Regions from separate parts of the Homo sapiens genome. Here regions 2 and 3 are each linked to region 1. Evidence: fine-mapped expression QTL. A gene starts in region 1. Each other region holds a variant in brackets. All regions are shown on one strand. Distances are between the middles of the regions.

Region 1 (4,164 bases):
TGGAGTGCAGTGGTATGATCTTGGATCACTGTAACCTCCTCCTCCTGGGGTTCAAGCGATTCTTCTGCCTCAGCCTCCCAAGTAGCTGGGATTACAGGCATGCGCCACCACGCCCGGCTAATTTTTGTATTTTTAGTAGAGATGGGGTTTCACCGTGTTGGCCAGACTGGTCTCAAACTCCTGACCTCAGGTGATCTGCCCACCTTGGCCTCCCAAAGTGCTAGGATTACAGGCATGAGCCACTACGCCTGGCCTTCTTTTTTCTCTTTCTTTCTTTTTTTTTTTGAGATGGAGTCTCGCTCTGTCGCCCAGGTTGGAGTGCAGTGGCGCAATCTCAGCTCACTGCAAGCTCCACCTCCCGGGATCATGCCATTCTCCTGCCTCAGCCTCCCTAGTAGCTGGGACTACAGGCACCCGCCACCACGCCCGGCTAACTTTTTGTATTTTTAGTAGAGAGGGGGTTTCACCGTGCTAGCCAGGATGGTCTCGATTTCCTGACCTCGTGATCTGCCCGCCTCGGCCTCCCAAAGTGCTGGGATTACAGGCGTGAGCCACCGCGCCCGGCCTTCTTTCTTTCTTTCTTTTTTAGACAGAGTTTCCTTCTTTCACCTAGGCTGGTGTGCAGTGGTACAATTCTAGCTCACTGCAGCCTCCAACTCCTGGGCTCAAGTGATCCTCTTGCCTCAGGCTCCCGAGTACCTGGGACCACAGGTGAACGCCACCACACCTGGCTAATTTTAAAATTTTTTTGTAGAGACAAGGTCTCACTACGTTGCCCAGACTGGTCTTGAACTCCTGGGCTCAAGTGATCCTCCCGCCTCAGCCTCCAAAAGTGCTGACATTACAGGTGTGAGTCACTGCTGCAGGCCCCTCAAATCCTTCACTGCCATCTGGGAAATGATCACAACAGCTCTACAAATACACAATGATTACAAGGAATGGTGCCCCACTGGAGTTGTTCAACGCAAAACTTGCACATTGCAAGTGGCAATCTCCCAGGCCTGCCTCCCTCCACGAGTGGGTCTGAATGGGCCTGAGAGGCAAACATCCAAGAAGGAGGAAGAGGCTCGGCGGCACCTCCCTCCCCGGGAGTTCTGCTGATTCCATCTTGGGGAAGCAGGGTGGACCAGGGCCCAAATGCGCCCTGGGGAGATTGCGGGGGCGGGAGAGGTTGCAAGGGGCAAGTGGCAAGAGCCTGTTAACGTCTTAGGGCCTCCAGGCCTTTCTGTGCCCCTAGCTGTGCCTGTACGCTTTACCCCACCTCAGGAGGCTTGGTCTCCAGCGGTTGAGGCTGGAAGCACCGGGGTGCGGTGGAAAGGGCTCTGTCCAGGAAGACCGGATCCGCAGAGCCGGGAGTCCGGGCTAGGAAGTCCCTTTCTCGGTGGGAGACTGAGGCCGCCTTGGCGGGGCGGGACGAGACTCCTCCGAGGTCGGGAAAGGGGGCCCCGCAGCAGCCCCTTGGCTTCCCTTCTCCCTTGCCTCCCCTCCGGGGCTCCGGTTCAGAGGCACTCTGGGCGCCTGCTACAGCTTCCAAACTGCGCCGCTTCCTTCTTCGGCAGAAAAGGACTTTCAGATGCGGCGGCGGCGGCGGCGGCGACTCAGGACAGCGCCCCCTCCCCCTAACGGCCGCCTCTCCCTCTCCCCCTCGCCCGCCCCGGCTCCCCCACCTCTGGGAAGGCGCTGGGGGTGTGGCCAGGGACCGGTATAAAGTCCGGGGGAGCCGGTCCCGGGCAGCCGCTCAGCCCCCTGCCCCTCGCCGCCCGCCGCCTGCCTGGGCCGGGCCGAGGATGCGGCGCAGCGCCTCGGCGGCCAGGCTTGCTCCCCTCCGGCACGCCTGCTAACTTCCCCCGCTACGTCCCCGTTCGCCCGCCGGGCCGCCCCGTCTCCCCGCGCCCTCCGGGTCGGGTCCTCCAGGAGCGCCAGGCGCTGCCGCCGTGTGCCCTCCGCCGCTCGCCCGCGCGCCCGCGCTCCCCGCCTGCGCCCAGCGCCCCGCGCCCGCGCCCAGTCCTCGGGCGGTCATGCTGCCCCTCTGCCTCGTGGCCGCCCTGCTGCTGGCCGCCGGGCCCGGGCCGAGCCTGGGCGACGAAGCCATCCACTGCCCGCCCTGCTCCGAGGAGAAGCTGGCGCGCTGCCGCCCCCCCGTGGGCTGCGAGGAGCTGGTGCGAGAGCCGGGCTGCGGCTGTTGCGCCACTTGCGCCCTGGGCTTGGGGATGCCCTGCGGGGTGTACACCCCCCGTTGCGGCTCGGGCCTGCGCTGCTACCCGCCCCGAGGGGTGGAGAAGCCCCTGCACACACTGATGCACGGGCAAGGCGTGTGCATGGAGCTGGCGGAGATCGAGGCCATCCAGGAAAGCCTGCAGCCCTCTGGTAAGGTACCCCTGGCCTCCCAATTCCCTCCTGAGTGCGCTCCCTTCCCAGCGGCTTCTTCCCCATTCCAGCCGCCCTGGAAGGCCCTTAAAAATCCCCTATGAGTTGAAGAGAAGGCAGGTACGTGGCAGGGCCCGACTGGCATGGGACAGGCTCATCAAGGAAACTGCTACCGAGTCCCTAGCAGCCTGTTGCCACCACCAAGGGAGACTGTCCCATCGCTCCATCTCAAACCTCCAAGGGTTGTCTGTTTGATAAGGGGGTCCCAGTGGGAGGCCTGGCTGCTGGTGCAGGAGTGGCAGATTAAGGTCCAGTTAAGTCAGCTGTCTAGGGCCAGAGAACTGGAGGATGGTGGTGGGGTGTGTGTTGGGGAGGATGAGGGAGTGGGGAAAGCTTTCTGTTCCTGATCCAGGCCGAGGGTGAAATCCCAGTGGTCTGGGGAGCCAGGGCCTGAACTTTTTTTTTACATGGTCCAGTGGTGGAGTGGGACATACAAATTAGAGGGACTTTGGCGTTGAGGGGCATTAGACTTGCCCTTCCCCAAAGCCCAGAGCCAGGTCACCTTGTTGTTTGAGAGGCAGTGGGAAGACAGGGGTCCCTCTGCCAGGCCTGGACACCTCTGCCTGCCCTGGTATACAGGCCCCCTGTTCTTTTCTCCAGGCAGGTAGGATTTGAGGTGGTAGAAAAGTCTTGGCTCCTAGCCGAGAGCTGCAGGAGCCTCATGTGTGTGGGATAGGGAATAGAGAAGGGGCCAGGGCGCCAGGGGAGAGAAACAGAGAGAGAGAGAGAGAGAGAGAGAAACACACACACACACACACACACACACACACACACACACACACAGAGACAGAGAGAGAGAGAGAGAGAGAGAGAGAGAGAGAGAGAGAGAGAGAGAGAGAGACTCTGAGAAGGCCCTTGCCCTAACCTCATTCTTACACTTTCTTTTTTTGTTTCTCAGTTTCTCCTTAGACTCTCAGTCTCTTTTCCTTCTTTCTCTTGCTCTTTTGTTCTTCCTGATTTGTCTCTCAACCTCTAGTTTCACTAGTCATGCTCTCGAGTTCTGTTTTCCTCAGTGTCTTCTGCCCATCGTGCGTTTCTTTCTCCACCTTATTCTGTGTTTCTGTTTCAGTTGCTCTGCTTCTCTCCCTCTCTTTCTGTTGCTGTTTCTCTGTGTCTCTGTCACTGTTGGTCTTTCCCTGTTACTTTGGGAATCTCTCTGTCTGTCTTTCTGTATCTATGCCTCTGTTTCTCATTCCATCTCCGACCCTGTTTTGCTCTCCTGTGCCTCTGTCTGTCTCTGTCTCTTTTCCTGGTGCTTGAAGCTTCCATTGTTGCAGTCCGGATGCTGGGACTCCAGCCCCAAGCTTCCTGTCCTGGGACCCAAACCCTCCACTTCCTCAATCCTCTGCAGCTTGTCAGCCGAGGAGAGCAGGATGCAGGGAAAACAGGAAGGAGGTGGACTCCAGGGGTCTGGGCCTCGGGCCTCTCTGCCCTTCCTGCCCCTGGGTAGGGAGAGATGGGTCAGCAGAAAACATTCTAGGAGAAATGCCAGCCTGGCACCCAGCATATCTGGGAAGGGGGGTCCTGGGGGAGAAAGTCGCTAATCTTGGGGCAGAGATGCCAGTGGCAATGGTAGAGGAGGGGTACTGAGACTGGGAGGGAGCAAGGGCCGAGCCCTTGGGTTCGCGGGGTACAACAGAGTCACGTTCCCTTTGAATCTCCATCCTCCACCAGCCAGAGGGTATCTGGCACCAGATAAGGATGGCTGGTAGCCTCCTCCTCTCTCAGCACTTTGAA
Region 2 (4,164 bases), 48 kb after region 1:
AACCCCATCTCTACCAAAAATACAAAAATTAGCCGGGCACCTGTAATCCCAGCTACTTGGGAGGCTGAGGTACAAGAATCGCTTGAACCCGGGAGGCAGAGGTTGCAGTGAGCCGAGATTGCGCCACTGCACTCCAGCCTGAGTGACAAGAGTGAAGCCCCATCTCCAAAAAAAAAAAAAAAAAGGAAGTGGTTTCTCTGTACCTGCAGTGAAAGCAGGGATTCTCAAGCTTGGTTACACACTAGACTCACCCCAGGCTGCGCCTTGTGCCAATTAGATTAAACTCTCCAGGGGGTGAACCCAGGCCTCAGTTTTGTTTGTTTTCCAGTTTTTCAGGTGAGTCCAGTAGACCATGAATGGCTCAGCAGGACCACATCACCTGGGCTCCACCCCTACAGAAACATAATCTGCATTTTAGCGAGGCCACCCAGGGCATGTGAATATGCAGTGGAGTCTGAGAACCCTGCTTTGGAGCAGGCACTCCCTGAGCACAGGGCTTGCTGCATTCTTGAGCTATGGATCTCCTGGGGATGGTAGCTGGTACACAGGGGTCACCCAACACACCCCAGGCTGCCGACGCGCTCCAGCGCTCTTTCCACTCCCTGGTCGGGGCATCCAGGACTCTTGGGATTCTGAGGCCTTGTTCCTCTCCCGAGGTCGGCCTTGCAGTGGGCTGCTCTGAGGTTCTCCCCAAGGTGAGGATGAACACCCTTCCTCCTGACCTGGGGGAAGGGAATTGTCCTTGGTGCTGTTCCAGCAAAGCTGGAGGAAGGTGGGGGTTAATGAGCCGCTCCTTTCTGAAGAGTGTGAGTCTTGCCTCTAGCTTCCTGGGATGGAGGCTGGGGAAATTGGGGAGAACGTGCACCCTCAGCTCCCACCTGCCTGGGGCCCTGGCACATGCACTGTTCCTCCCCATTATGACTGTGGAGCCCCAGCCTGCCCCAGCCCGCTCCTGGGTAGGGCCATCTGGCCCTGCTCACAGTTACTGCCTCTGTCTGAGCTTGCTTGGGCCACGGTGGGGGTGGGGAGTTACATCAGATGAGCAAGGGCTGGCAGCTGACTGGGACTTGCTGCTCAGCGGGTGGAGGAAGAGCCTAGCTTTGTAGCAAAACAAACCTGGGGTGAGTCCTGGCTTTGCTGCTTTTCAGCCAAGGGCATTGTGCAACTTTCCTAACCTCTCTGAGCCTCAGTTTCCTTATCTGCAAAGTGAGGATCTGAAACCAGTCTTCCAAGGTTGTGATGAGGATGAAATACAATAGCCGGGAGCCTGGCCCATGGTGAGGCTCGAGAGAGGAGCATTTCCTACCTGCCTGCTTTTTGGGGACAGTATTGGCCAAATGGAGCCCTTTTCTGGCTAAGGTGGGGATCTCTCTGCTTAGAAAGATGACTGCAAGAAGAGAGTGTTTGGGGCACTGCATTGTGGGCTCTGGAAGAAAAGAGATCTTGGAATGGGTTGGATTCTTCTGGAAGGCTGGAAAGCACAACTTCAATTTTTATAGGACTTTATAGTGTTTACACCCATAATCTCCTCTGAACCTTATAATAGCCCTTGAGCAGGGCAGGCATTATTTTTTACAGAGGAGGAAACTGA[A/G]GCTTGGAGAAGAGTGGGGATGGAGCTAACACTTAGTGTACAACGATGTTTCACAGAGACTGGTCTTTATTGAGTGCAATGTGCCAGGACCACTACGAACACATTGCTTGTATTAGCTCCTTTAACCCTCATGACAACTCTGTGGAAGTAGGGGATATTATTAATGCCCATATAACAGATGGGAAATCTGGAAGGCTCAGAAAGGTGAAGTGAGTTATCCAATGCTGCACAGCCAGGGAGTGTTGTTGAGCTCTGTTTAGGGACTGCTTCTTCCAGGATGAGGAGGGGCTCCTTGGGAACCTGCTCCAAGGCCTTGCCCTGTGAGAAGGTGCTTGGCTGCTTTGGGGAGGGTCTCTTGGCACAGTGAAGCTCTGGGCTCCCTACTCACTGGGCCATTGAAACATCCATCAGGGACCTTGCTGGGGTCACTGAGTAAGGAGAGCGGGAGGGGAGGGAGGAGCCCCGTGCTCACCTCAAGGTGGGTGTGGCTGGGGGGTGGGGTTGGGGCCTCTACCCATTGCAGGGGTGCAGTCGCTGTTTACTGGCCTGTGGGGCAAGTCTGAGCAGTGCTGGGTGGGTGCCGGCGCCAGCCCCAGGCAGGCGGGTGAGTGGAGGGAGGGCGTGTGGGTGAGGGGTGGAGAGATACTTATTAAATACCCTTCACTTGGGGCGGGTAAACAGCCTTGCCTGGCAGACATTGTTGGAAAATGAAAGTGGGGGGCCTGTTCCAAAGATGGGGTGCGGGGTGTTGGAGAGGATAAAGAAAGGGATATGGTGTTTGCTTCTAGGAACCACATTCTCTGTGGGATGGGGGCCCCCAGGGCAAGTTTAAAGGAAGGCAGGGGCAGGGAACCTGGGGAAGGTTTGTGAAGCACCCAGGAGGTCGCGCCTCAGAAGAGGAGCCTGCAGGCTGCCTCCAAACGGATGGATTCCGTGATGCCCCAGAGGGCAGAAGACTAGACTTTAGAAAGAGAGAAAGGACAGTGGCCTATGGAGCCCAGAGCCTGGGATTTGAGGCCTGACCTATCTCTCCCTGACTGTGTGACTGTGAGCCATCACGTACCCACCCCGAGCCTCAGTTTCCTCATCTGTAAAAGGAGGTTTCCACTATTTCCTTCAAAAGCCAGACACTGGGATCATGGATTACATGGAGTCTTTTTTTTTTTGAGACAGGGTCTCACTCTGTTGCCCAGGCTGGATTACAGTGGCGGGATCTTGGCTCACTGCAGACTCCACCTCCAAGGCTCAAGTGATTCTCCCACCTCAGCCTCCCAATAGTTGGGACTACAAGTTCATGCCATCACACCCAACTAATTTTTGTATTTTTAGTAGAGATGGGTTTTCGCCATGTTGGCCAGGCTGGTACATGGACTAGTTTTTTTTTTTTTTTTTTGTTTTAAGCCTGGGCTGGGTGATATGGCTCATGCCTGTAATCCCAGAACTTTGGGAGGCTGAGGAAGGAGGATTTCTTGAGGTAGCCTGGGCAACATGGTGAGACTCCATCTCTACAAAAAGTTTAAAAATTAGCCAGGTTGGCAGGGCATGGTGGCTCATACCTGTAATCCCAGCACTTTGGGAGGCCAAGGTGGGCGAATCACCGAGGTGGACGAGGTCAAGAGTTCAAGACCAGCCTGGCCAACATGGTGAAACCCCGTCTCTACTAAAAATACAAAAAAATTAGCTGGGCATAGTGGTGGGCACCTGTAATCCCTGCTACTCAGGAGTCTGAGCTATGAGAATCGCTTGAACCTGGGAGGCAAGACTCCATCACCCACCAAAGAAAAAAAAAATAAGAAATTAGCCGGGCGTGGTGACATGTGCCTGTAGTCCCAGCTACTGGGGATGCTGAGGTGGGAGGATTGCTTGAGCCCAGGCATTCAAGGCTGCAGTGAGCTATGATCACACCACTGCACTCCAGGCTGGGCAACACAACGAGACTCTGTCTCAAAAAAAATATGTATATATATTTAGGGGAAATGTCAATATAGAATTGCCAATGTTTAATTTTTAAATTCTGCCAAGTTAGGACAAAAAGGAAAAGTAAACATCTCCTAGCACGGTAATGTCAGAGTGTCTTTCCTTGAACAGCCCAAAAGTAGGAAGGATGAGATTGTAAAATGGCAGGGGATCCTCCACTCTGAATACATTTCGAGGTAAGAGAACTCACCACAACGCTCAGAGTTGTACACTGCTATAGGCCAGTGAGAGATTTGTCACCAGCAGTAGGGTCTGCGGGGAGGATTTTGGGTGCAGGTGTCTGCTGTTCTTAGTGATGGTGGAGAACTTCCCAGTGGGGAGCTGACCTGGCTGGGTTGTCTTAGGAGGTAGTGAGCTCCCAGGCATTGCAGGTGTCCAGGCAGACGTTAGAGGAAGAGATTTTTTTTCTCCATCAGAAGGGGCCAGGGCACAGAGAGGCAGCTTCCTCAGGACCCTCTGGCCACTGCCTGCCTTACATTCCCTGTTCCCCAGAGTTGGGTGGACACATGTTCACAATGGCATGTGGTGCCCAGGGCATCTGTGGATGTGGACCCATGCCATCAGCCCTAAGCTGATCATGAGCCCCTTCCGTGGAG
Region 3 (4,164 bases), 73 kb after region 1:
GACACAACCAGATCTGTGTGTTGGAAAGTCTGCCTGGGCTGCCCCACAGAGGGCATGATGGGGGTGGGGAGGACACCTGGAAAGCTGATACCATGATCTGGGTGAGATAGGGTGGGGTAGGGGAGTCACCCTAAGGCTGGGCAGTGAGAGAAGTAACAGGATTGAGGGATTGTGCTTAGCTGGTTTGGGCTTGAGTGACTGGGTAATTGGGGGCACCATCCATCCCAGTAGGGAAACAGGAGGTATGTAGGTTTAATGGTGAGGATGGAGATGCATATGCATTAAGTTTGAGGACCTGATGATTTGAGGTGCTCATGGGACATCCAAAGTGAGATGTCTGAGGGAGAGCTGATATAAAGATTTGGAGGCCAAATAAAAGTTAGGGCTGTAGTTTGATATTTGGGGCTCATCATCCTACATCAAATACAGATGAGTTAAGGGGCCACAGAATGCTCTGGAAGCTGCACAGGATGACTTTGGTGCCCTGTGCATCCACCGTTGGCATTCGCTGTTCCCCTGCATGCTGAGGCTTCTGCCTGCATCCCTGCAGTTCTGCCAGAGGCCTTCTCTGCAGACAGAAGCAGGCTGTCTGTCCTGTGCATGGGACAGGTTAGGAGTGTTGTGGAGTTGATGACCCCAGGAGCAGCCTTCAGCCAGTGACAGATGCGAACTGGATGATGAAAACCATCTTTACTTCCTGTAGGTGTGTTCTGCCATCTCTCAGGGGCTTCCAGTGGGATTGCGTTTGAGTTCCCAGTTGCCCACAGGGGCTTGTCAGTCCTCCTCCATTGGCTTCCTCCCCCTTTCTGTGTCACTCTTCCATTTCCCTACAGTGCTTCCTGGGATCACCTGCCAAGTCAATGAATCTCATGCTCATCCTTGTCTCAGAGTCTGCTTCTGGGGAACCCGTTCTAAAACACTGGTTTCCTTCAGTAGGATGTGCGTCTGCATTGACTGCTTCCTGTCTTGATTGCTTCTTCATGTTTCCAGCATGTCTTGACTCTCAACTGGCCTGGAAGTGGCTTCAGGGTGTTTTCATCTCTGTGTCTCCAGCACCAGGATGCCAGGGGAAGGGATTCCTCAGCAAGCGGTTGTTGGATATATGAATGAATAAACCCACCAGTGGCTTCTCATTGCTTTTAGGATCGAGACCCAACTGTTCAATAAGCTTCACAAGGCTCCTTCCCACCTCTCCACCTCCACGTCCCGCCACCCTCCCCCACCCTCTGATGGTGCGTGTGGCACATGCCGGTCTCTGCCTGACTGCTCCTTCGCCAAGCCATCCTCTTGACACAGTACTAGTTCACACCTCCTCCCCCATCCTTCCCTTAGCACTCCTCCATTTCCCACTCCCCGCCCCCTTCTCAGAGAACTCAGGCATCCTCTCTGCAGCAAAGATGTCCCTGACCACCGTCCCCAGCCCAGACCAGTTGGGGCCCTACTGTTCTAACCTCCTGTAGCACTCTGTGTATTTCTTCATGCTCCCTATCATTGACTTCGGTTATGAATTTTTTTTTTTTTTTTTGAGACGGAGTTTCGCTCTTGTTGCCCAGGCTGGAATGCAGTGGCGCGATCTCGGCTCACTGCAACTTCCGCCTCCTGGGTTCAAGCGATTCTCCTACCTCAGCCTCCTGAGTAGCTGGGATTACCGGCATGCACCACCACGCCTGGCTAATTTTTTTTTGTATTTTTAGTAGAGATGGGGTTTCACCATGTTGGTCAGGCTTGCCTCGTACTACTGACCTCAGGTGATCCACCTGCCTCGGCCTCCCAAAGTGCTGGGATTACAGGTGTGAGCCACCATGCCCGGCCTTGGAATTATTTAAATAATGCTTAGAATGATGTTTCTCAAACTTTTCTGATTATGAACCACAGGAAGAAATACATTTTATGCCAGGACCCAGTTCACGTAATACATGTATAACTGAATGCTTATCCTCACTGCTTGGGCTACACTAATATTTTCTATCCCATTCTGTATTGCATTTAAAAAAATGCTGGCTGTGACTCACTAAATGGACTATAGGCTGGCAGTTGGGAAAAAGGTCTAGACAACAAGATAGATGCCTGCAAATTCAGGAGAGTAGGGACTTAATTCACTTGTACTCACTGCTGTCCCCCAGGGCACTGCACAGTGTCTGGCACCCAGAAAGGTGCTCAATCAA[T/G]ATTTGTTGAATGACCATATGATAGGAACAAATATGTATGAATGAGTGAATGAATTGCCTGCCCCACCCAGACAGGAAACTGTGGCTTCTATCAGATTTTGCTGTTACCGAAAAATACCAGCCCACTTCCTGTGGCTTTGATCTGCAGCCTTAATTCTAAACTGCCCTGCCTCAGCCAACAGCTATCTGCAGCTCATTTCCTGCTTTCTGGCCATCTTATCTCTGTCTTCAAGCATTCCTCAGCTTTCTCTTTCCAGGTAAGTATACCCAGAGCCCCAGTTCTTCCTCTTGCAACTTTGGCAGCACAGGGTGGGGCTGCCCTTTTGGGCCAAGTACTATCCCAGATCTCAGGCTCCTGGGGTGTGGGGCCTTTCTGGGTCAGGCGTGTCCTTCTGATTCCAGCCTCCTGGGGGGCAGGTGCTAGGGCTGGGCCTGGGCATCGGTCCACATCCTGTTGATGGTCTTTGGGACAGGATGGGGGATGAGGATGGAGGGTAGACATTGATGAAATAACCATGCAGATGTCTAATTATGGACTGTGAAAGAGGCTATGAAGGAAAAGTCAAGGTTGCCTTGAGAATGTGTAACAAGGGACATGCCTATAGGGGATCACGGAGAGCTGCCTCAATTAATCCAAGATCTGAATACAATAGAAGCTAGCCAGGCAAAAAGGGTAAAGGAGAGAGAAAGAACTTGCAGATGGAAGAGACTGCAGGTGCAAAGGTCCTGGGGTAGGAGTGAGTGATAGCGGTCCTGTTGAGGAGCTGAAGAAAACTCAGTGCAGCTGGTGGACAAAGACAGAAGGATTTACAACAAGGAGGCCAGAGAGGCACCTAGGGGCCAGCCCCAGTGCACCAGCTTAGAGGTTTTGGATTTACCTTGAAAACAGTGGGAAGCAACAGAACATTTGTAGAAGCGTGATGACATTGTGTTTGGTTTTTTTAATTTGTTTTTGTTTATCTATTTTTATTTTTATTTATGTATTTTTGAGACAGGGTCTCGCTCTGTCGCCCAGGCTGGAGTGCAGTGGTGCTATCTCAGCTCACTGCAATCTCCACCTCCCGGGTTCAAGAATTCTCCTGCCTCAGCCTCCTGAGTAGCTGGGACTACAGGCACATGCCACCATACCCAGCTAATTTTTTTGTATTTTTAGTAGAGACGGGGCTTCACCCTGTTAGCCAGGATCGTCTCAATCTCCTGACCTCGTGATCTGCCCATCTCGGCCTCCTAAAGTGCTGGGATTACAGCAGTGAGCCACAGTGCCCGGCCCTGTTTTGGTTTATTTTTGAGACAAGGTCTTCTCTGTCACCCATGCTGGAGTGCAGTGGCACGATCATAGCTCACTGTAGCCTTGACCTCCTGGGATCCAGCAATCCTCCCAAGACATTGTGTTTTGCAAGATCCTCTGGATGTGGTATGGCTAAAGGGTTGGGGAGCTGATCAAGTGCAGAGGGCAGGAGCCTAGGGTGGTGGTGGTGGAGATACAGGCACATGACTGGCTTTGAGAAGTACAGTACTTAGTAAGTACAGTCCAATATAGTCCAATACAGTAGAGTTGAATTTGTCCATTCAACAGTGTTAAACACCATGACTCTAAGGACCAGAGAGCCAGGCTGGGTTCTGCCTTTAGGCAGCTCTCAGTCTTCTGGGAGTGCAAGTTGGAGGCAGATTGGCCAGGCTGAAAATGCAAAGTGCTCAGGGATGTTCAAATAGCAAGCATGCCTCCTGGAGTGCATGCCCAGAGGAAGAAGGAGCACCTTCAGTGGGTGCTTTCCTGCAAATACTGTTTGAGTTCCAGGCAGAAGAGAAAACAGGGTGCTGGGAGAGGATTCATTAGGGTCTCCTTCCTGACTCCTCACCATCATTTATAGGACTTTTGGCTACAGGGATCTTCCCTGCATTTCACCGGGGCCTATAGTAGGGCTGAGAGTGTGAGAGGGAACAGGGGTCTCCCCAAGTGCCTGGGGCAGCGAGCCTTGTAGGTCAGGTGAGGGTGGCA

Which allele goes with the higher level. Alleles are on the strand shown, and positions count from the first base shown. SD is a standard deviation of normalised expression in the study named. Not every link is listed here.
In carriers of allele G in region 2, the expression in cerebellar hemisphere of the gene that starts at base 1,733 in region 1 tends to be higher than with A alone (small effect, 0.35 SD a copy in GTEx).

What was found. PIP is the estimated chance that this variant, and not a neighbour inherited with it, causes the effect. A credible set is the group of variants that fine-mapping cannot tell apart.
Region 2: its variant is the best candidate, but not a certain one, in a credible set for the expression of IGFBP4 in cerebellar hemisphere (GTEx, PIP 0.67).
Region 3: its variant is the best candidate, but not a certain one, in a credible set for the expression of IGFBP4 in whole blood (TOPMed, PIP 0.59).

Annotation. Positions count from the first base shown.
Region 1 is chr17:40,441,718-40,445,881 of GRCh38, forward strand. IGFBP4 (insulin like growth factor binding protein 4) reads left to right here and starts at 1,733. Exons shown (of 4, transcript NM_001552.3): 1 at 1,733-2,367. The coding sequence starts at 2,019. RefSeq lists silencers at 1,630-1,819, 1,830-1,879, 1,890-1,939.
Region 2 is chr17:40,489,630-40,493,793 of GRCh38, forward strand. The region is part of intron 2 of TNS4 (tensin 4); the gene reads right to left. Among named protein-coding and RNA genes, the nearest start is that of TNS4, 9.9 kb to the right of the region's middle. RefSeq lists enhancers at 858-1,483, 3,848-4,164. The variant A/G (reference allele first, on the strand shown) is at 1,592.
Region 3 is chr17:40,514,628-40,518,791 of GRCh38, forward strand. It overlaps LOC105371773 (a long non-coding RNA gene), which reads left to right and starts at 2,318. Exons shown (of 4, transcript NR_188623.1): 1 at 2,318-2,422. The variant T/G (reference allele first, on the strand shown) is at 2,166.